Homo sapiens: one gene and its partners. The protein of the gene in region 3 interacts with the protein of the main gene of each other region in a biochemical or structural test. Each region holds a gene or a part of one and is shown on either strand. Other genes may lie near its edges.

Evidence for each region.
Region 1: the proteins of HDAC6 (region 3) and PRKCA form a complex in vitro, tested with the Homo sapiens proteins (2 studies listed by BioGRID, with this or other methods).
Region 2: the proteins of HDAC6 (region 3) and TPPP form a complex in vitro, tested with the Homo sapiens proteins (2 studies listed by BioGRID).

What each region holds. Positions count from the first base shown.
Region 1 is NC_000017.11:66,732,606-66,739,628, reverse strand, and holds part of PRKCA (protein kinase C alpha type), read right to left. Parts: intron 6,942-7,023; coding exon 6,804-6,941; intron 4,141-6,803; coding exon 3,967-4,140; intron 866-3,966; coding exon 774-865; intron 1-773. UniProt on the Homo sapiens protein: Calcium-activated, phospholipid- and diacylglycerol (DAG)-dependent serine/threonine-protein kinase that is involved in positive and negative regulation of cell proliferation, apoptosis, differentiation, migration and adhesion, tumorigenesis, cardiac hypertrophy, angiogenesis, platelet function and inflammation, by directly phosphorylating targets such as RAF1, BCL2, CSPG4, TNNT2/CTNT, or activating signaling cascade involving MAPK1/3 (ERK1/2) and RAP1GAP.
Region 2 is NC_000005.10:676,337-683,359, reverse strand, and holds part of TPPP (tubulin polymerization-promoting protein), read left to right. Parts: intron 1-3,417; exon of another isoform or gene 3,418-3,851; coding exon of another isoform or gene 3,852-4,048; intron 4,049-5,295; coding exon of another isoform or gene 5,296-5,299; coding exon 5,300-5,610; intron 5,611-6,743; exon of another isoform or gene 6,744-7,023.
Region 3 is NC_000023.11:48,812,044-48,819,066, forward strand, and holds part of HDAC6 (protein deacetylase HDAC6), read left to right. Parts: intron 1-2,396; coding exon 2,397-2,523; intron 2,524-2,631; coding exon 2,632-2,697; exon of another isoform or gene 2,698-2,790; coding exon 2,791-2,850; intron 2,851-2,918; coding exon 2,919-3,008; intron 3,009-3,340; coding exon 3,341-3,447; intron 3,448-3,531; coding exon 3,532-3,599; intron 3,600-3,840; coding exon 3,841-4,009; intron 4,010-4,097; coding exon 4,098-4,226; intron 4,227-4,421; coding exon 4,422-4,590; intron 4,591-5,282; coding exon 5,283-5,416; intron 5,417-5,997; coding exon 5,998-6,066; intron 6,067-6,176; coding exon 6,177-6,369; intron 6,370-7,023.

The DNA of each region.
Region 1 (7,023 bases), on a different chromosome or scaffold from region 3:
TGCACTTCCCTCTCCCCGATTTTTAGGGGCTTACGTGTTATCCTGGTATCCTGCGCAAGTCTCTAAAGTTACAGCAACGCACTATTAATTGTTAGGTGACTTCTCCACCTCCAGGGTGGAGTGTAAACTCCCTCTGGAAAGGGAGCACCTCGTTCCTTTCGCAACCCCAGTGCCTGGTGCAGAGCAGGTGTGTGATAACCATTTGTTCAACAGATAAGAATAACTCCATCAACAAGGGTGGACCTGGGTGATGATGGGATATGGCAACATCTCCAGTTTATTGGAAATACTGGAAATAGAATAAACTGCTCCTTAGGAACCATCTTAGATGGATCCTACCAGTATATCTGCCCTCCGCCTCCCATGTTTAGGTTTATAACATTCAACCTAAAACTGGGCAGAATCCCACTTTCCCATTTCACCCAGCAGAAGTTCCCAGTTGGGGCTGGGCATGGTGGCTCACTCACGCCTGTAATCCCCGCACTTTGGGAGGCCGAGGTGGGCAGACAGCTTGAGCTCAGGAGTTCGGGACCAGCCTGGGCAAGATGGTGAAACCCCATCTCTACCAAAAACAGAAAATTAGCCAGGCATGGTGGTGTGTGCCTGTAGTCCCAGCTACTCAGGAGGCTGAGGTGGGAGAATCACCCGAGCCTGGGAGGCAAAGCCTGAGTGACAGAGTGAGACCCCCAATCTCAAGCGGGGGGGAAAAAAGGAAGTTTCCAGTTGGTAGGACTTGGTTGTTCAAATTAAAGGACTTAAAAAATAATACTCACACTGCTTGTGGTTCCTTAAATTTTCCTACTTGCTGAATGTGGTACATGAGGTCCCCACCGTTGACATATTCCATGACGAAGTACAGCCGATCCTGCAGACCAAGGTTCAACACATGAGCAGGGCTCCTCCCCAGCCAAGTGGCTTCCTTTGCTCTTCACAGGTTGTGTTTTGCTTTCTCATTAGTTAAATGGGGACTGCATGGGCAGATGTGCTCAGTTTAGAGCTCTTTCACATTTTTTTCCAAAGAAAGAATAAGTAATAAACCCTACTGCATGAGGGCCTTGGGAAGTATAAAGTCATTACATAACCCTGAAATAATGGCTCTCCATCAACGTGCCTTCCTGTTACATATGCTATTATAGTAACGGCCTTGAACATTCTTCCCTATCTTCCTATACATATAATAAATTTCTAAGTAAGGGATGGTGTGAGGAATCCACATAAGGCAATTATTTCATTTTAACTAGTGCTTCTCCATGGTCCAAATGTTTAAAGGCTGGTTTGCAGTGTCTGGGAGGCGTGCCATACTAATGTAGTATCGTGTTTAAATGGATACTCCTGAAAACACATCTCTCAGGCTTAGGATTACACATGCTCAATATATTTACTGGACATGGGACAGGGGACTCTAGATGGAGATGCTAATCAAATGTTCTTTTGCATCTGTAATATGCCCAAACACTGTTTTTCTATTTTCTCTGTCACTGGTAGGCTAAGTGTTGGCCCCATGATGGGCATGTATCATAGACCCAAATAAATCTGCATATTCCTGAGGACATTATGCTGGGACAGATAGGAAGATGGAGGGGTTTAACAGTGAAATAATGACCTCTGCTCTCTGCTAGAAAACATCCCCATTTCACAGAGGATATTAAACATTAAAGTGCTGCACAGGGAGAAAAAAATGATGAAGCTGGTGCTAATAGCCAGGAAGCAACCCTGGGAGCCCCAGTCTCTAGCTTTCCTGTTATGAACTTTAATTTCATCTTCATTTCTTTGTTTTGTAGCTTTCCAGAGCTTAATCAGGGTAACCAGGGTTACAGGCTCTGGGCTGGGATTCAGAGCTGTGGTTGTCTCTTCCGAGCATGCTGCTCTCATCTCTCCCTGGCGTGACTTGATTCAGAGTCAGTGGGAACGGCTGGGAGCAGGAAGCTCAACGTGCCGCCAGCGCTAGGCTGACACGTAGTGGCCGGCGCCTGACTCCGCGGCCACTGCTACACACCCAGAGGCTCCGGGTGGCTGCAAAGCCATTTTGAGATTCTAAAACACAAAAGCACTGAGAGGTTCCTCCCAAGAGTTTTCAAAGAGGCATAAGACAGAAAGTCAATCTCTGATCAATGGGCAGTTGAAAATAGTAATAATCGCATCAATTACAGCTACTGATTATGGAGTCATATTTTAAATGGGCAGCCTCTGAGGAGTGGAAAGACCAGCTTTGGCAACGTCTCACTATGGTGGCATCTAAACATCTATGTTTCTTTTTTTTCTTTTTAAGACAGAGTCTTGCTCTGTTGCCCAGGCTGGAGTGCAGTGGCGCCATCTCGGCTCACTGCAAGCTCCACCTCCCGGGTTCACGCCATTCTCCTGCCTCAGCCTCCCGAGTAGCTGGGACTACAGGCGCCCGCCACCACGCCCGGCTAATTTTTTTTTTTTTTTTTGTATATTTAGTAGAGACGGGGTTTCACCGTGTTAGCCAGGATGGTCTCGATCTCCTGATCTCGTGATCTGCCCGCCTTGGCCTCCCACAGTGCTGGGATTACAGGCGTGAGCCACCGCGCCCGGCCATGTCTGTTTCTTGTAGGCCACTTGCAAGCCCTGCAACGGACTGATTAGTGCTTTGGAATGTCCTTTTTTGTCCTCTGTTTAGTTTTACTTTACGACAGAGCTCAGCAAACTTTTTCCACAAAGGGCCAGACAGTATGTATTAATATTTTAGGCTGTGAGTGTCTCTTGCAGCAACTCAACTCTGCCTTCATGGTGCAAAAGCAGCTGTAGATGACAGGTACACGAAGGAGTGTGGTGATGTCCCAAAACAGCTGTTTATGGATGCTGAAATTTAAAATTTGACCTAATTTTCACGTGTCACGATATATGACTCTTTGGATTTCCTTGTTGTGACCTTTCCTAAACTCACAAGCCATAGAGAATAGGCCACAGTTTGCCAGTCCCTGTTGTGTGGCATTGAACAAGAACATGCTCTTTTACAAAATCAAGTCTCCTTATGCTCCAATGCCATGTTTGGCAGTGGAACCAGTGGTCTTAAAAAGCCAAGACTGTGGCCAGGTGCGGTGGCTCATGCCTGTAATCCCAGCACTTTGGGAGGCCGAGGCGGGTGGATCACCTGAGGTCAGAAGTTCAAGACCGGCCTGGCCAACATGGTGAAACCCCATCTCTACTAAAAATACAAAAATTAGCCGGGCGTGGTGGCAGCGGCCTGTAATCCCAGCTACTCGAGAGGCTGAGGCAGGAGAATCCCTTGAGCCTGGGAGGTGGAGGTTGCATTGAGCAGAGATCGCACCATTGCACTCCAGCCTGGGGAAGAGAGAGTGACTCCGTCTCAAAAAAAAAAAGCCAAGACTGTGAGTTTTTTTGTTTGTTTGTTTTTGTATCCCAAAGTCTGAGCACAGTACCAGGCATGAAGAAAACCTTTCATGGAAATGTTTGCTGAATTAAGGCCAGGCACAGTGGCTCACACCTGTAGTCCCAGCACTTTAGGAGGCCAACGTAGGGGGATCGTTTGAGCTCAGGAGTTTAAGACCAGCCTGGGAAACATGGTGAAACCCCCGTCTCTACTAAAAATACAAAAATTAGCTGAGTGTGGTGGGGTACATCTGTGGTCTCAACTACTTGAGACTGCAGTGGGCCGTGACTGTGCCACTGCACTCTAGCCTGGGCGAGAGAGTGAGATCCTGTCTCAAAAAAAAAAAAAAAAAAGAAAGAAAGAAAGAAAAAGAAAAAGAAATGTTTGCCGAATTAAATGGCATGAATGCCAAGCAGAGGACATCACAGAGAAGGCATGCCCCAAATCTACCAGTGAGAGAGGTGGGAGGTGGTCCCCAGTCACCTCTGCTTGACATCACAACACACCTTTCTCCAGCCTTCTCCAAAGGAACAAGGATGCTAAGAAGCTTTGGGCTGAGGCGTAGCTCTGAGAGCTGGGTACTGCATCGCAGGGATTCCCAGGGTCCTTACCACTGTCTGGAAGCAGGAGTGCAGCTGCGTCAAGAACGGGGGTTTGTCAAGCAGGGCCAAGACTCGCTTTTCTACCATGGTGCACTCCACGTCATCATCCTGAATCACCACATCCTTCTTCAGGATTTTGATTGCATACAGTTCTTCTGTGCCCTTCCTGTCGGCAAGCATCACCTGAGAACACGTCAAGAACAACCTGAACACTTGTAAGCACATATCTTGGGGGGCAGAGGGAAGGAACCAGGCCAGGTGACGGCTCAGTGACAGTTTGTGCACCTTTGTCAATGTGGAACATAAAAATATTAAACTTTATGTGCAAATTTGTAAATTCTACACATCACTACAAATTCAGTCCCTCCAGCATTTGCAAAACTTCAATGCTGCCAAGATTTGTAAATGGTATAGGCCACTGCCACATAATGGCACTATTTTGGCTGCTAAAATGAATACTCAACATTCTCTATCAGGATTAGTCTGGAATAATGCACATTTTTCAGGAGTATCCTTAGAGTGAAAGCTGACTGACATTTATAATCTCTCAAGTCAAGAACCTAGACTTGAAATCAGTTCCTGCGTCTATGAAATGTGGGGCCACAGAAACCGAATGGAGATACAGGCAAATTGCTGAAGACCCCATGTCAGTATCTCTTAATGATTGTATTTGCTTACTACAAGTGAACATTTAATTTTTAGTTGTGAAAACTATTCATCAACCAGCATTTCTGAGCATCCCTTCTGTTCTGAACACTGAGAAATAGTAACAACACAGTGAACCCACTATAGCTTTTTGGATGCAGTTGCTTTTAAGGAAGTAGAAACCAGGTGAGGACTGTGCACTCTGATCTGAGAGACCAAATAAATGCCTCTTTAGCGACTAAGATGGACCCTAATGTCGCAGGCATTTGAACCAGAGTGACTCCATCTTGAATAAGGGATGGGAAAAATAAGGCTGAGATCTGCTGGGCCGCATTCCCAGGAGGTCAGGCATTCTTAGTCGCAGGATGAGATAGGAGGTCAGCAGGGCTAGTATCACAAGACACAGGTCAGAAAGACCCTGCTGATAAAACAGGATACAGTAAAGAAGCCAGCCAAAACGCACCAAATCCAAGATGGCGATGAGAATAACCTCTGGCTACCCTCATTGCTCATTATATGCATTATTAGCATGTGAAAAGACACTCCCACCAGCACCCCAACAGTTTACAAATGCCATGGCAATGCCCAGAAGTTACCTTATATAGTCTAAAAGATGGAGGAAGCCTCAGTTCTGGGAATTGCCCACCCCTTTCCCAGAAAACTCATGAATAATAAAACCCTTGTTTAGCATACGATCAAGAAATACCTCTAAGTATACTCAGTCAAGCAGCCCATGCTGCTGCTCTGCCTATGGAGTAGCTGTTCTTTCATTTCTTTACTTCTCTAACAAACTGACTTTCACTTTATTCTGTGGACTCGCTCTGAATTCTTTCTTGCTTGAGGTCCAAGAACCCTCCTCTTGGGGTCTGGATCAGGACCCCTTTCTGGTAACATTAAAGTTAAGGAAATAGTTATCTATGGGTTGAGGGTTCAGGGCCCAGCTGGCATGGCAAATTTCTAAATCCCTACAGCTACAAGATAAACCACTCTCGCTAAACTCCCTAGCAGTAGGAGCTATCAGGCCCCTCCTAACTTTGATTGACAACTCAGATCACTATGACTTGGACTGGACAGAGAACTGGCCTTACAAACATTCTTTTCTGTGATGCAACTGCAGACCTGAAGCCAGTTTCAGCAGCTTGCAGAGCCTGCACACAAACTGTTTTTGGGTCCTGTGGTTCACCTTTTGATCTAAAGAGCCAACTTCCACCTTTTTTTATTTATTTACTTTTTTTGAGACGGAGTCTCCCTCTGTTGCCCAGGCTGGAGTGCAGTGGCATGATCTTGGCTTACTGCAACCTCCACCTCCCAGGTTCCAGCGATTCTCCTGCCTCAGCTTCCCGAGTAGCTGGGATCACAGGTGCACACCACCACACCCAGCTAATTTTTGTATTTTTAGTAGAGATGGGGTTTCACCATTTTTGCCAGGCTGGTCTCAAACTCCTGACCTCAAGTGGTCCACCTGCCTTGGCCTCCCAAAGTACTGGGATTACAGGCATGAGCCACCATGCCTAGGCAAATTCCACCTCATTTTAATGCTAAGTCCCCACCCCAAAGTGAACATAAGATGCATGTTACATATATGTTCATCCATTGTGCCTGTGCTAGGCTTCCCTCACAGATAAGTCAAGCTTTCCCCCCAAACCTGTTGAATATGGATGACTCTACTGTGTAACATGGACCCTGTGAGGCATAAAACCCAACCTGCCCTTTCTCTCCTCAAAGAGAGGGCACCTTCATTTCACACCATAGACTTTCTTTTATGGGTTTGCAAACTGATACCACCAATAAACCTCTCCTTTCTACCATTTAGCCATCCTGGTGGTCTTCTGGATGACTGTACAAATCACAGGGAAATCTTTTTTTTTTTTTTTTTTTGAGACGGAGTCTCACTGTCTCCCAGGCTGGAGTGCAGTGGTGCGATCTCGGCTCACTGTAAGCTCCGCCTCCCAGGTTCACGCCATTCTCCTGCCTCAGCCTCCCAAGTAGCTGGGACTACAGGCGCCCACCACCATGCCCAGCTAATTTTTTGTATTTTTAGTAGAGATGGGGCTTCACCGTGTTAGCCAGGATGGTCTTGATCTCCTGACCTTGAATCACAGGGAAATCTAATGTGCTATTCTGCAAACTACGAGGAGAACAAAACTGATTCGACATTCTCTGCAGAAGCCCCTGCAATTTGCAGACGACTGTCCTCTTACCTTTCCAAAACTCCCCTTTCCCAACACCATGAGGAAATTGAAGTCCGTGAGTTTCACTCGGTCAAGGTTGTTGGAAGGTTGTTTCCTGTCTTCAGAGGGACTGATGACTTTGTTGCCAGCAGGGCCAAGTTTGGCTTTCTAAATAACAAGCACAAATGGGAAACACGTGGGTCATTTTTCTGGGGAAAGAGTGACAGAAACCACCGTGTTGTAACTGAGT
Region 2 (7,023 bases), on a different chromosome or scaffold from region 3:
TGGTCACTTCCCAAGGAATGCTTGCCCTCGGGTTCTGGTGGAATCCAGTCGGCTGCCATCAGAGTGTCTTTCTCCGCAGAGACAGGTTCTCCCTCGGGCTGTGCCTGCATGAGGCCATCGGGTGCGAGGGAGATGGGGAGGGGGCTGCACCCCTTCAAGGATGAGGAGACTGAGGCACAAGCAGCTGTCCTACCATGGGCACTTGCCTGCGAGCGAGCTCTGGGGGTCAGCGGGTGCAGCTGGAGAAGCTGCTGGTGGCTTCTCTAGGGCAGGTGGAGCTGTCAGAGGTCACACCCTGGCCTGGTCCAGCCCAGCACAACCCAGGGGGCCTGCAGGACACTTGTGACCAGGACAGAGGTTCTCAGGGAGGCCAGAGCCTGAGCAGGGCCGAGGGCTGGCTCTGAGGTCTCAGGCCCCAGGGAGGGGTGATGAGCTGAGGGGTGGTAGCTCCCACTGACTCCATGGCTCCTGCCTCCAGCTTTGACCCAGCACTGCTGATGATGTGAGCACAGCCTGTCCACCAGCCTCCTCTGCCAGCAAGGCTCAGCCACCCCACAGCCATCCACATGGAGAGCAGTCGTGTAGGCTCTGTCGGCGCCACCCCCGCGTGGGCGTGGGCAGTGAACAAGGGAGCACCGAGGCTGCTGCTACCTTTAAAACAGCAGCTGGCCCTAGTGAGAGAGACCCCAGGCCCTAGTTACAGGCTCCAGGCCCAAGGGGCAGACCCCTGGCGCTAGTGACAGACCCCAGGTCCTAGTAACAGGCTCCAGGCCCAAGGGGCAGACCCCTGGCCCTAGTGACAGACCCCAGGTCCTAGTAATAGGCTCCAGGCCCAAGGGACAGGTCCTGGCCCTAGTGACTGACAGGCCCCTGGCCATAGTGACAGACCCCAGGCCCTAGTAACAGGCTCCAGGCCCAAGGGGCAGACCCCTGGCCCTAGTGACAGACCCCAGGTCCTAGTAACAGGCTCCAGGCCCAAGGGGCAGACCCCAGGCCCTAGTAACAGGCTCCAGGCCCAAGGGACAGGCCCCGGCCCTAGTGACTGACAGGCCCCTGGTCCTAGTGAGAACCCCCTGGCCCAAGTGCGAGACCCCTGTTCCTAGTGACAGAGCCCAGTCAGTCCTAGTGCCTGGCCCCGCTTACTGATGCCACATGGACACCCGGGTTTCCAGCCCCTGGACAGCTCTGTGATCAGAGGCTGGGGCTGCTGTTTCCCCAGCCCTGTCAATTCTGTTCTGGCAGGTTTTCTGTAAGTTTGGCTTTGGGCAGTCCAGTGTCCAGTCTGAAGGCGTTTCCCAGGAGATTCATTCTGACAAATGGGGCCCAGGTGATTTTCCGTGGGGCCTCTTGGGAACAGGGACAGCCTGTGGGGTTGGGGCCAAGGTGGCCTGCGGTGTCTGGGACGAAGCCCCGCCTAGGTGGCCGAGTCCTTGGAGCTGGTGACACACCTGGGACAGGCATTCCCTGGCCTGCGAGGAGGCTTCGTTCCCTAGGACAGCCACCCTCTGGGGTCTGCCTTTGCCTGCCCCACTCTGAGGTCTGTGGTGCCACCTCTGCCCTCATCTTCTGTCCTTTCCAAGCCTTTTTTGAAGATGCCAGTTGGACAACACAGTCTTGCCCACACCCGTGGGTGAGCCCGTAGGTGCCATCCTCCTGACTCCCTGGGGAGGCGCTGGGGGTGGGTGGGAGTGGGGTGGGCTCAGCCTCCAAGCAGGTCCTGGCCAGGCCCCACTTGTGGTCCCATAGGGTCTGGCCAGGGAAGGGGCATGTGCTGTGAGCAGACACCTGGGTCAGGTCAGGGCTTGGCACGTCCCTCCTACCAGGGAGGTGCCGGCCAGTGGGAGAGGGTGCAGGTGCACATCTGGATGCAAGACACAGGCCTGGGAGTACAGGCACAACTGGGATGGCGGGCACAGGCCTGGGAGTGCTGGGCACATGTGGGATGGTGGGCACAGGCCTGGGAGTGCAGGGTGACCCCCTGGGGGCTCAGGGCACACGCGTGGAGATGGTGGGTACACGCCTGGGAGCTTGTCCTTTGACCCCAGGTGAGCAGTTTGTCTTCCTGGAGTCTCTTCTGCTACACAACCTTCTTTTCCCTCACGGTGAAAGAGCAGAGCCTCTGGGGGAAATGGTGTGAGGGTCTGCACCCAGGGCTCAGGTGTGCTGTGCCCAGAAACTGGGAAAGTGGAGGACACCTGGCCTCTGCCCATCCAAGGAGAAGCAGCTGGCACAGCAGCATGCCATGCTCGGTGGAGAGCGCCAAGGGAGAGGCGCCCACCCAGGCTCGTTGTCCGTCTGACACCTCCATGTTCTCTCAAAATTAAATGTATTCTTATTACCGTCATTGTGGAAACAGCACGTGGGTCTAATGAAGCGATCCAGACAGTGTGGCTCCCATCTCCTCCACTCCTGCTCCGTGTCTGTGGCCCGTGTCCTGCTCCTCCAGACCCAGCAGCAGCCTGGCTGACTTCCCACAGCGGCACGTCGTGCCTAATTCATTGTCATTTTTAGTTTAAAAACCTTTTAAAAAATATTTTGTTAAGCTAATGCATGTTTGAGGTAAAACAAAACTACAAGAACCTAGAACAGTGAAGCTCAGATGGGCTCTGAGGCGAGTCCCCACGTGAGACCCCTCAGCACACACCCCACGCAGAGGCGGGCTTTGGAAGCATTTCTGGCAGCTGGCGTCTGAGGTCGGCACTGCTCCACCCCTTGGTGCAGAAAGGCTGGGGCTGAGTTGGGACGGGTTCCACTTTTCCCTCCGGAACTGCCTGGGCCTGGTTCTCAGCCCTCCCAAGCGCCCGTGGACTCACTCCCGTGTGACGGCCATGGGTTCCTGCATCTACTACTTCTTCTCGGCTGTTGACGGCTGTCACCCTCGTCTTCCTGGGAAGCCCAGTCACCAAGCACCTCCGCAGGGGGTGTGGCCACGTCTCTGAGGTCACACCCACTGCAGGTGGCCTTGCTCCCCTCAGCCTGAGTGGGACAGTGGACGTGGGTATCCAAGTCCCAGCCTGAAGCATTTTTCCTCAGAACGTTTGAAGGCAGTGTCTGTCTTCAGTAGATCCGGCGATGGCCTGACCCCTGTTCCTTTCTGCCCTCTCCCCCACGGCCCCCACCGTGCTCTCATGCGTGCCATCTCATGCTGCTTGCTGTGCTGAGAGGGGCTGAGCCTAGCACAGGTGGTGCCTGCCCAGCAGGGGCGCAGGGGCCGCGGGCCGGACCGTTCTCACGCGTCGTGACTCCCACCCGTCCGCATCTCTGCTCACGCACATTCTCTTCCGCCAGGTCTGAAATCGCCTGCTGGCCTCCCTCTGACCTGCCTCAGTTTCTCCTCTTCACTCCTCGCTGCCTGATGTGTCATTGCTTATTTGTTTATCACTTGTCCCAACTGAAGGCCTCATGAGGGCAGGACGTTTTATGTCCCGCTCAGCCCTCCAAGGCCAACCTCCAAGCTTATCAAAACCTCATGCAAAGCACGTGCTGATGGGCTGGGAAGTCCTGCGTGAGCCCTGAAGGTGGCTCTGAGGGGCTTCCCTCATCCCTTTGCTCCCAGGCGGGCCCCACGGGGTGCAGGTTCTCAGATGACTCTCTGAGGTGTGTGAATAAGGGTCTCTGTTCAGGCGCGTCCCCACAGGAGATGAGACCACAGAACGCAGCCCTGAGTTTGAAGCATCCCAGAAGGTTCTTTCTCTCTGACCCGCACACCCACCACTGTTCTGGGTGCTCACAAAACCCACCATTGCTTCTGGTAATTTCTCAGCTGCTCCTCCTGTCCAGCGACCCCTGCTGCAGAGGCCCAGGGGAAACACAGACCAGGCCTGTGAGAAGCTCCTGTTTCAGACAAAGAAATGGTGTCAGCGATAAAACTGGAAACTGTTCCCAGCTCGACACCTGACCTGGCCCTTCCACCCCCAGGATCCTGCCCCCAGGCGGCCCTTCCACCCCCAGGATCCTGCCCCCACGCGGCCCAGCCCCCACCAGGATCCTGCCCCTGCATCCTCCGCTGGGTTGGCATCTGCATTTTTGGTGCCTTCCAGGGAAAGGGGTGAGTGGGTGGGGCCTGAGGCCCTTAAGGTCCTCAGTGGAGGGAGTGCCCCTGGATTTTTTTCTGGCTGTTTTGGGGGAATTTGTGGGATCTCAGGGTCAGCAGCGGCCACACTCAGGACCCCACGATTACAGAGCCACACTTTGGCCATGACTGGCGCTGAGAACTCCAGATCTGAGAGGGCTTCGTGAGTCCCAGGGTTGGGACACCTACCTGTGTCCTCGGCACGGACCCTCCCACCGGCTCTTGTGTCTGTGGGCAGAGGCCATGTTCAGCTCTCAGTGCAGTGCTGACGGCCCACCTGGTGTCCAGGCCCCTTTGGGAAGCAGCTTTCATGCCCTGAGTCCAGCACCTCAGCCTTGAGTCCTTCAGGGCCTGACTGGGTCTTACCGAAGCCCATGCATGGTAGGGAGGTGGCCTCGGCAGCCCTGCCCTGTGGCGTAGCCCTGCGTCCCCAAGCCCTGCCTGGGTGGCACCCCTCAGTCTTCTCAACCCCATGGCCCAGCCGCCTACTCTGGGGGCGGGCGCCTTGCAAAGTCCAGAGGGCGTCCCTGCGCCCTGACACCGGTGCCCCCACCACTGCCTCAGCCCTGCACACTGGCAGTCCCCTCCCCTGGCCGGGGCCAGGCCCAGGGCTCCTGGGAAGAGCATCCTGAGGCGCCCCCAGGGCCACCACGCACCCTCCCCAGCCTAAAGCTCCATCTAAGGTCAGAGGCTCTGCAGTGGGGAGGGAGCGGCTGTCGCACGACTGCTGTGGACCCTCCCAGAGGAAGGCAGCACGTCACAGACCCTGGGGAGTGCGTGATCCCGAGGTGTCCTCCAGAGCTGCAGAGCGGGCGTCCACAGGAGGGACAGTGGAACTGCGGCGGGGAGGGGACCCGGAATAGGCTCTGATGCTGCCAGTCACACACTGAGCCTCCTAGGCCTGGAGCCCCTGGCACCCAGCTCAGCTCCCACCCTGGGCTCTGCGTGCTGCTGGCTTTATTTGGCTTAGGGGGTCCTTGGCCCAATGATGGCAGTGGGCAAGGCCTCGCTTGGCTCCACTCTGCCCGGGGCTGGACATGCGTGCCTGCGGGGCAGCTGGCTCCAAGGGTCTGAGGGGCCTCACGCCCAGCCCCAGGAGGGCCTGCCCATCTCAGCCCTCGCCACGTCCTGGTGCTCATTGGTACGGCGGGGTTTCCTGGGCTGCACCCGGCTCAGCTGGGACATGGCCCGGGTGACACCTTTCTCCTCTCCTTCCTCCATAGCAACATGGCTGACAAGGCCAAGCCTGCCAAAGCTGCCAACAGGACGCCCCCCAAGTCCCCGGGGGACCCCTCGAAGGACCGGGCAGCCAAGAGGCTGTCGCTGGAATCGGAGGGTGCTGGTGAGGGGGCAGCCGCATCCCCTGAGCTCAGTGCCCTGGAGGAGGCCTTCCGGCGCTTTGCCGTGCACGGGGACGCCAGGGCCACCGGGAGGGAGATGCACGGCAAGAACTGGTCGAAGCTGTGCAAGGACTGCCAGGTGATCGACGGCAGGAACGTGACCGTCACTGACGTGGACATCGTCTTCAGCAAGATCAAGTGAGTGCGCTGGGCTCACGGGCCGAGGGACCTGACTTACGGGGGTCTGCGGCCCTGAGCCCCTGGGTGGGTTCTGTGGGGAGCGGGCCATGGGGAGTGGAGGGGGTTGTGCTTCAAGACCCCGCCCTTCTCAGAAGCAGCCCTGACATGGGAGCCTGAACGTGCCATCTGGGCCCCCAGGGAGCAGGGGTCCGGGCATTGCCGGACTTCTCGGTGCCGAGGCCTGAGTGGCAGCCCTGGCTCCTCTCAGCCCCGTGGGTGTGTAGGGTTTCGGCATGGGAGGTGGCCTATGAGGGGATGTCTGGCCTCAGAGCAGACTCGGGGTGAATGCTGCTCCCCGGAGTCAGGGAGCTGTGACTGGGATCACTGGGCTTCCCCAGGAGTGGGGGCAGTGGCTGCCTGGAGCCTGGAGGGGCAGGTGGCTGCTGGCGGGCAGAGCTCCTGACCCTCTGTGGGCTGGCTCAGCGGCTGAGTCTCAGAGGTTGGATGCTTGTGTCCCCATGCATGGAGCTGGCCATTCGGGTGTCCCCCAGCCCCTCCCAAAGCCTTTGTGCTGCTGTATTTCTGCCCCAGGATTCCCACGGGCGGCAAAATGGCAAAGGGCACCAAGGAGGCGGCTCCGGCCACCACCTTGAAACCGCATCGTGCCGTTTGCTTTTTCTGCGTCGTGTGCACGTGTGCGCGTTTCTGTGTGCACGTGTGTGCGTTTCCGCGTCGTGTGTGCACGTGTGCGCGTTTCTGCGTGTGCACGTGTGCGCGTTTCTGCGTCGTGTGTGCGTTTCTGTGTGCACGTGTGCGCGTTTCTGCGTCGTGTGCGCGCGTGCGTTTCTGCGTCGTGTATGCGCGCGTGCGCGTTTCTGCGTCGTGTGTGCATGTTTCTGCGTCGTGTGTGCGCGTTTCTGTGTCGTGTGTGCACGTGTGCGCATGTGTGCATGTGTTTCTGCATGTGCACGTGCGTTTCTGTGTCATGTGTGCACACGTCTGTTGCCGTGTCACGCATTGTCTGTTTTCTCCTGGATGAATGCTGGGAAGCACACTGAGGCACCCTCACACGCCCCAGCACATTTCACCTCATGTCCCGACACCCCACCATGATCGCACCCGAGAAAAGCAGCGGTTCTCCCTGAGCCCCGTCCTGTCCGCCTGTGTGGCAATGGCTTTATTTCGGTGGTTTGCACCTGCGTCCTCCTGTGGCCGATGTATTTCATTCCTACATTGCCGCAAACTCATCACCTCTTTCATCTCAGAGCTCCTGCACCTTCCCCCTCTGCGGCCTTGGCTTTGCAAGGGGCCGGGCCGTGGGTCAGATGCCCCTGTGTGGAAGGCTGTGGGGCCCACCTCTGCGGCGCCAGCGCCCCATCTACCAGCTCTGGGTGGGCGCCGTGACCTTTGCAGCTGTTCCGTCTCTGCTGT
Region 3 (7,023 bases):
TGAAAATTAACAATAATTATTTTTTTAATCTGCCAAGGGTCTGTCATTCAAAGAATTCTTTAATATCATTAATCATTCTTTTTGTTTGAATAAATGCATAGGAGGCTATAGCTGTGTGTTCTTTCATGGGTACACTATTGATTACACACACAGATGTGAAACACTGTGAATATATTCAGTGCATTCTTCCTTATTAACAAACGTGTGTAAACAAACAAACAAAAAGAACATGTCCATGCCCTTGGATCTCCCAGCTCCCCATCTCTCAGTCTCTGAACTCCAGCAGCAGGGAGACAAACTGGATAATCCTTAAAATACTGTTGTGAAGACAAGGAAAGCAGATGATCTAAAACTAAGTAGTTAAAAGAAACAAGTAACTTTGTTGTATTGGTGATTCAGTGAGTTGGCTCTTCAGAAGGGATTTTGTGTGCATTGACCTGGATCTGTACTGGATTTCTCCAGAAAGGAAACTTCAGCTTATCTTGGGTGCCCCCTTATCCTGCTCAGCATGAGACAGAGCACCCTGGGGCCCCTGGAATCTCAAAGTCTACTTTCTAGAAATTCATTGAAGTCTCTTATTCTCTGACATCCTTTCCACTCTCTCTTTCTGGGTTGCTGTTTGTTTACAATTTCTTTACTGTATTTTGAATGGGGTAGTAGGAGGTTGAGGAAGTAAACCTGTGCTATCAATCCACCATTTAACTTGAAGGTGGTTGAACTTATTTTGAATTTCCCTTCTGTTTTCTTTTTAAACTTAGCTTGAGTGCTAGTTCTGCTGTTTATTGACTTTGATGGCTCTCTTTTAGAGTCAGCTTTCTTCAGATCTTTTCTTTCTTCCTGTCTTCCCCAATGATATTTTTTTCTTTTCCTTTCTTTTTTTTTGAGACAGAGTCATGCTCTGTCGCCCAGGCTGGAGTGCAGTGGCCCGATCTCGGCTCACTGCAACCTCCGCCTCCTGGGTTCAAGCAATTCTCCTACCTCCACCTCCCAAGTAGCTAGGATTACAGGCACGCGCCACCACGCCCAGCAAATTTTTTGTATTTTTAGTAGAGACAGGGTTTCGCCATGTTGGCCATGCTGGTCTCGAACTTCTGGCCTCTAGTGATCCGCCCACCTTGGCCTCCCAAAGTGCTGGGATTACAGGTGTGAACCACTGCGCCCAGCCCTCTGGTGATAATTTTTATGTCCTACTGTGTTTCTCTTCCTCTAATGATTAACTTACTAAAAGTTTAGAACCAAGATTTATCTATCAATGTCAAAAATAAAACAATCATCCTCCACCTACTCAACACCAGAGCTTTTGCTTGTTTTTATTCCCCAATTCCAAGCTCTTTTCCCTCAATTTTAAGAATCTTTCTATATCACTTGCATTAAATTTCACAACTACATTATCAACCCATTAAAATGTGACTCTTAAGTTTGTCTAGATTCAATGCATACCACTATTTCTTGCATTTCCCTAAAAAAGCTGCCTTAGATCCTCTCTGGAACAAAGCAGGGGGTAAATGACCAGATAGAAGGATGGATGGATGATAGATTATTCATTTTGCTTTCCCCAGTCAGAATTAAGCCCTCCCATGGCCCCTTGCTGGGCTTTCTGTCAAAACACGTGCATCGCATCTTTTCAGTATCTGTTTTGCGTGTCGGTCATACTCACCCCTCTGAGTGCTCATTCTCTCGCCTATAAAATAGAAGAAGTAGTAGAGGTGGCCTGTAAGGCATTGGGGAGGAGGAACTGCCCTTTCACTGGCCTCATGACAGCCCCAGCCAGCACCCCCGCTCTAGTTCCACCCACAGAAGCAAGTCTCACCCCTACCCCCCAGGTCTCTCCACTTCCTGCTAGAGAATCACCCAGCTCCCCAGCCTGGCTTGAGGCTCTTTTCAGCCTTAGCTGGCTCCCCGCAGCTAAGAGCCCCATGCTCCATTTGGGCCTCCAGTGTCACAGGGTTTGACCTGCTGTTACTACTACCTTTGTCATAGGGGCAGGTAGTGGGCGGACATGATCTAGAGTACCCCACAGAGTCAGGAGCCCCCATGATCTGAGATAGACCCTAGAGCTGAGCCTGAAATTGGGTGGGCACTGAGGGGGCAGCGATGTTTGCTGAGGGAGAGGTTCTGGTGAGAGACTAAATGAATGAGCGAGTGAGGTAATGGATAAATAAAGATAAGAATGAAAAAATGGTAAGATGATTAAATTGGTGACTGAATGTAAGGGTAAATTAATGGAAGAATGGATTCATGGATTAAATAATTAATGGGGAAATTAATGAATGAGAGAATGAACGAGTGGTTGAATGGGGAAATGAGTGGTAGAGGAAACTGGCAACTGTTGGGTTGGGGGTGTCTATGGGGATTGACTTCTCCAACTCTCTTACCTCTTTTTCTTCTGCCCCCAGTGTCCTCTATTTCTCCATCCACCGCTACGAGCAGGGTAGGTTCTGGCCCCACCTGAAGGCCTCTAACTGGTCCACCACAGGTTTCGGCCAAGGCCAAGGATATACCATCAATGTGCCTTGGAACCAGGTCAGCATCTACCCACCTCTGCCCCCAAAGTGAGGCCCAGCCCCGCCCTTCTGTCAGCGGCTCGGGACAGGTGGCTGAACATCCCCCATCACACTCCTGTGTCTGCAGGTGGGGATGCGGGATGCTGACTACATTGCTGCTTTCCTGCACGTCCTGCTGCCAGTCGCCCTCGAGGTCCTGGGGATCTGGGGTGTGTTGGGAGGAGGAGTGGCCTTGAAGGTTAGGCTGTGAGGGTAGGTAGCCTCATGGAGTCTGTTCCCCCTTCAGTTCCAGCCTCAGCTGGTCCTGGTGGCTGCTGGATTTGATGCCCTGCAAGGGGACCCCAAGGTAAGGCAGGCTCCCTGGGGCGGCAGGTGGGTTGCATGGAGCCAGGCTGACCCTCCATGTCCCCCCAGGGTGAGATGGCCGCCACTCCGGCAGGGTTCGCCCAGCTAACCCACCTGCTCATGGGTCTGGCAGGAGGCAAGCTGATCCTGTCTCTGGAGGTGAGTGACTCACCTTCGTCCCTCAGCCTGTGGATCCTGGAGGGCTTAAGAACGAAGCTTTCAAGTCCAACAGGAGTTCCTGGCCCAGGAATTCACTTACTAGCTGGACAACCTTGCATAAGTCACTTCACTTCTTTGTGCCTCCGCTTTCCTTCTATAAAACGAGCATAATGTAATCACCTCATATCATTGTCCAGTGAATTCAGTGAGGCACCCTTCTAAGTTCCTTGTTGCTTGACATGTGGTATGCACTCTCTTATTATCATCATTATTATTATTCCCTGGTCATGTCTGGTCCTTTCCTGATCCCCCTTCACAACTCCTTGCCCCAGGGTGGCTACAACCTCCGCGCCCTGGCTGAAGGCGTCAGTGCTTCGCTCCACACCCTTCTGGGAGACCCTTGCCCCATGCTGGAGTCACCTGGTGCCCCCTGCCGGAGGTGAGCCCCGGTGGAGGAGGGGAAAGCGGGAGCCTCACTGCCCGCCCACATTCCTTGACATCATATTTTCTCCCTGCCCTGCAGTGCCCAGGCTTCAGTTTCCTGTGCTCTGGAAGCCCTTGAGCCCTTCTGGGAGGTTCTTGTGAGATCAAGTAGGAAGTGGGGTGTGGGCCTGGTGTGGGGTGGACGTGGGATGAGCCCTGGGGGAGACTGTCTTCAGACTTCCTCTGACTTTACTGGGCTGCCTTGGTGGGAGAGGGTCAGGCCCTCTCTCTCTCCCTGGGCCCTGGTTTCAGGCCTCCCACCCCTTTTTCTGTTTGGGTCACCTGAGTTCCAGAGTATGACGGGGATTCAGATTGAGAGGGTAGGACAAACGTGGCCTCCCCCTTTTAGCTGAGACCGTGGAGAGGGACAACATGGAGGAGGACAATGTAGAGGAGAGCGAGGAGGAAGGACCCTGGGAGCCCCCTGTGCTCCCAATCCTGACATGGCCAGTGCTACAGTCTCGCACAGGGCTGGTCTATGACCAAAATATGATGAATCACTGCAACTTGTGGGACAGGTAGGCATTTGGAGGGCTGGATGAGTAGGTGTTGGGGGTCCCTCCCCCTCAGGCACTAAGCCTCTACCTCTCGTTTCCCCACTGCTAGCCACCACCCTGAGGTACCCCAGCGCATCTTGCGGATCATGTGCCGTCTGGAGGAGCTGGGCCTTGCCGGGCGCTGCCTCACCCTGACACCGCGCCCTGCCACAGAGGCTGAGCTGCTCACCTGTCACAGGTCAGACCCCGGTGCCTGGGGTGGGTGGATTCCCAGGACTGTGGATGAGGTCTCAGGGGCTGGAACTTGGGTTTCCCCTCCTGGGGAGCTGCTGCAGGACTTGAGAGGGGCTGAAGTCCCTGTCTTAGGGGTGGGGACCAGGGAGGGGACAGACCCTCCTCACTGTCCTGCGGGTGCTCCTCTCTGTGCTTCCAGTGCTGAGTACGTGGGTCATCTCCGGGCCACAGAGAAAATGAAAACCCGGGAGCTGCACCGTGAGAGTTCCAACTTTGACTCCATCTATATCTGCCCCAGTACCTTCGCCTGTGCACAGCTTGCCACTGGCGCTGCCTGCCGCCTGGTGGAGGCTGTGCTCTCAGGAGAGGTGTGTCCTCTGTGGGCTGGGGAGAGGAGGACCTGGGGGGAATGGAAAAAGAGAGCCATCTGCTGTTTCTGGAGGCTCTGAGAGAGTCAAGCAGGGCCTGAGGAAAGGGGCCATGGGGAGGGGCACGGGAGGGGGTGGGCCTAGAGGCTGGGGGAATAATGGAAGGAACTGGAGAAAGGGAAGGGTGGCCAAGTGCAGTGGCTCACGTCTGTAATCCTAGCGCTTTGAGAAGCTGAGGTGAGCTCAGGAGGTCAAGGCTGCAGTAAGCCATGATTGCACCACTGCACTCTAGCCTGGGCAACAGAGTGAGACCCTGTGTCAAAAAAAAAAAAAGGTCCGGGCGTGATGGCTCACACCTGTAATCCCAGCACTTTGGGAGGCCGAGGTGGGCAGATCACGAGGTCAGGAGATCGAGACCATCCTGGATAACATGGTGAAACCCCGTCTCTACTAAGAAACATACAAAAAATTAGCCGGGCGTGGCAGCAAGCGCCTGTAGTCCTAGCTACTCAGGAGGCTGAGGCAGGAGAATGGCGGGAACCTGGCAGGCGGCGCTTGCAGTGAGCCGAGATGGCGCCACTGCATTCCAGCCTGGGCGACAGAGCGAGACTCCGTCTCAAAAAAAAAAAAAAAAAAGGAAGAAAGGAAGGTGAGGGCAGGCTGTCCGATCTTAGCACCCTGCTGCTTCCCAGGTTCTGAATGGTGCTGCTGTGGTGCGTCCCCCAGGACACCACGCAGAGCAGGATGCAGCTTGCGGTTTTTGCTTTTTCAACTCTGTGGCTGTGGCTGCTCGCCATGCCCAGACTATCAGTGGGCATGCCCTACGGTAAGGACTCCCTGGGGACCCCCCAAATCCTGATCCTTGTGGGGACCTGGATGCTCCCCCCAGCCCATTGTTTACTCATGCCCCATGGTCCAGCTCCCAGGACTTCCTTCCCCAGAAAGAAGTAAGGGTGCAGTCCTTACCCAGAGAAGGACCGAGGATGGAGCCTCTCAGTGCTTATTTAGATAGGACCCCCAGATCATGTTACCTGGGCACTTACAAAACAGGATCCAGGGTCCCACCCCAGCATTTCTGGCCTATAGCAGCTGCCTCGACAGAACCCAGGTCTAGGCTCCTGATGCATACTCCAGAAGACCCACGAACCAGCCCCCAGCATTAGCTGCCCAAGGCCCAGGGTCCAGTTCCCTAGCAATGACCCAGAAGAGCCCAGGGCCCAGCCCCGAGCACTTGCTCAGGCCTACCGGGCAGCCCTTGGGAACCAGGATCAGACTTTTCTCCTTAACTGATAGGACCCAGGGTCCTGCCACTCAGCACTAAATGCCCCTGCAGACCCCAGGGGTCTAGCCCAGCCCTCTTCCAGGGCGTGAGTATCGTCGGTTACTGAGGTGCTGTCTCCTCCCCAGGATCCTGATTGTGGATTGGGATGTCCACCACGGTAATGGAACTCAGCACATGTTTGAGGATGACCCCAGGTAAGGGCTGCAGTCAGGGGCCGCAGTGTGATCAGGGAGGCGGGTGAGCACCTCAGGGGTACTGGAGCCCCTAACCAGCCATGGTCCGCTTCCCACCCCCTCCCTGGCAGTGTGCTATATGTGTCCCTGCACCGCTATGATCATGGCACCTTCTTCCCCATGGGGGATGAGGGTGCCAGCAGCCAGATCGGCCGGGCTGCGGGCACAGGCTTCACCGTCAACGTGGCATGGAACGGGCCCCGCATGGGTGATGCTGACTACCTAGCTGCCTGGCATCGCCTGGTGCTTCCCATTGCCTACGAGGTACAGCTCAGGATAGATCGCAGGACGTATGTGACACGCCTGTGCAGGTGGCAGCCTGGACCTGCCTCCTTGGCATGTGTGTGTGTGACTACCATGTGGCTGATGATATGAGACAGCGCATGGGTGTTTAATGAGGCTACCAGGGCAGTTGGTGGCTGTGATCACCTTGTGTATTTGTGCACAGATGGCTGTACATGACTGCCTTCTCTGTGTGACACTGTGTGAGTGACTGTCTTGGCTGTGTGTGTGAGGGCCTTCTGACTATGCACCAATGGCCCGTGTCCTGGCTGGATCTGTGTTGTATGTGCGTGCCATCACAAGTGCTTGAGTATGTGCGTGTGCGACTCTGTGCAGGCAGGTATTTCTCACCTTTTCTCTGTGTGATGGGTGTGATACTGTATGTCACTAAATGCAACCATCTCTGTGACAGCCTGTGTGGGACCTTCTGGATGTGGAAGGCTGTGTGTGACAGCAGTCACTGTCTGGCTGTCTGCCCTGGCTGTTTGTGTGTATGTCTCTGACTGGGAGGTAGCTGCCTTCCCTCTGTGTGAGCTAGGAGGCTGGTGGCTTGTGTATGGCTGACTCTGGGAGGGAGGGAAAGGGTGTGAGCACCGCTCTGTCACCCTGGGCGCCGGTGTGCATCTTTGGATCTGC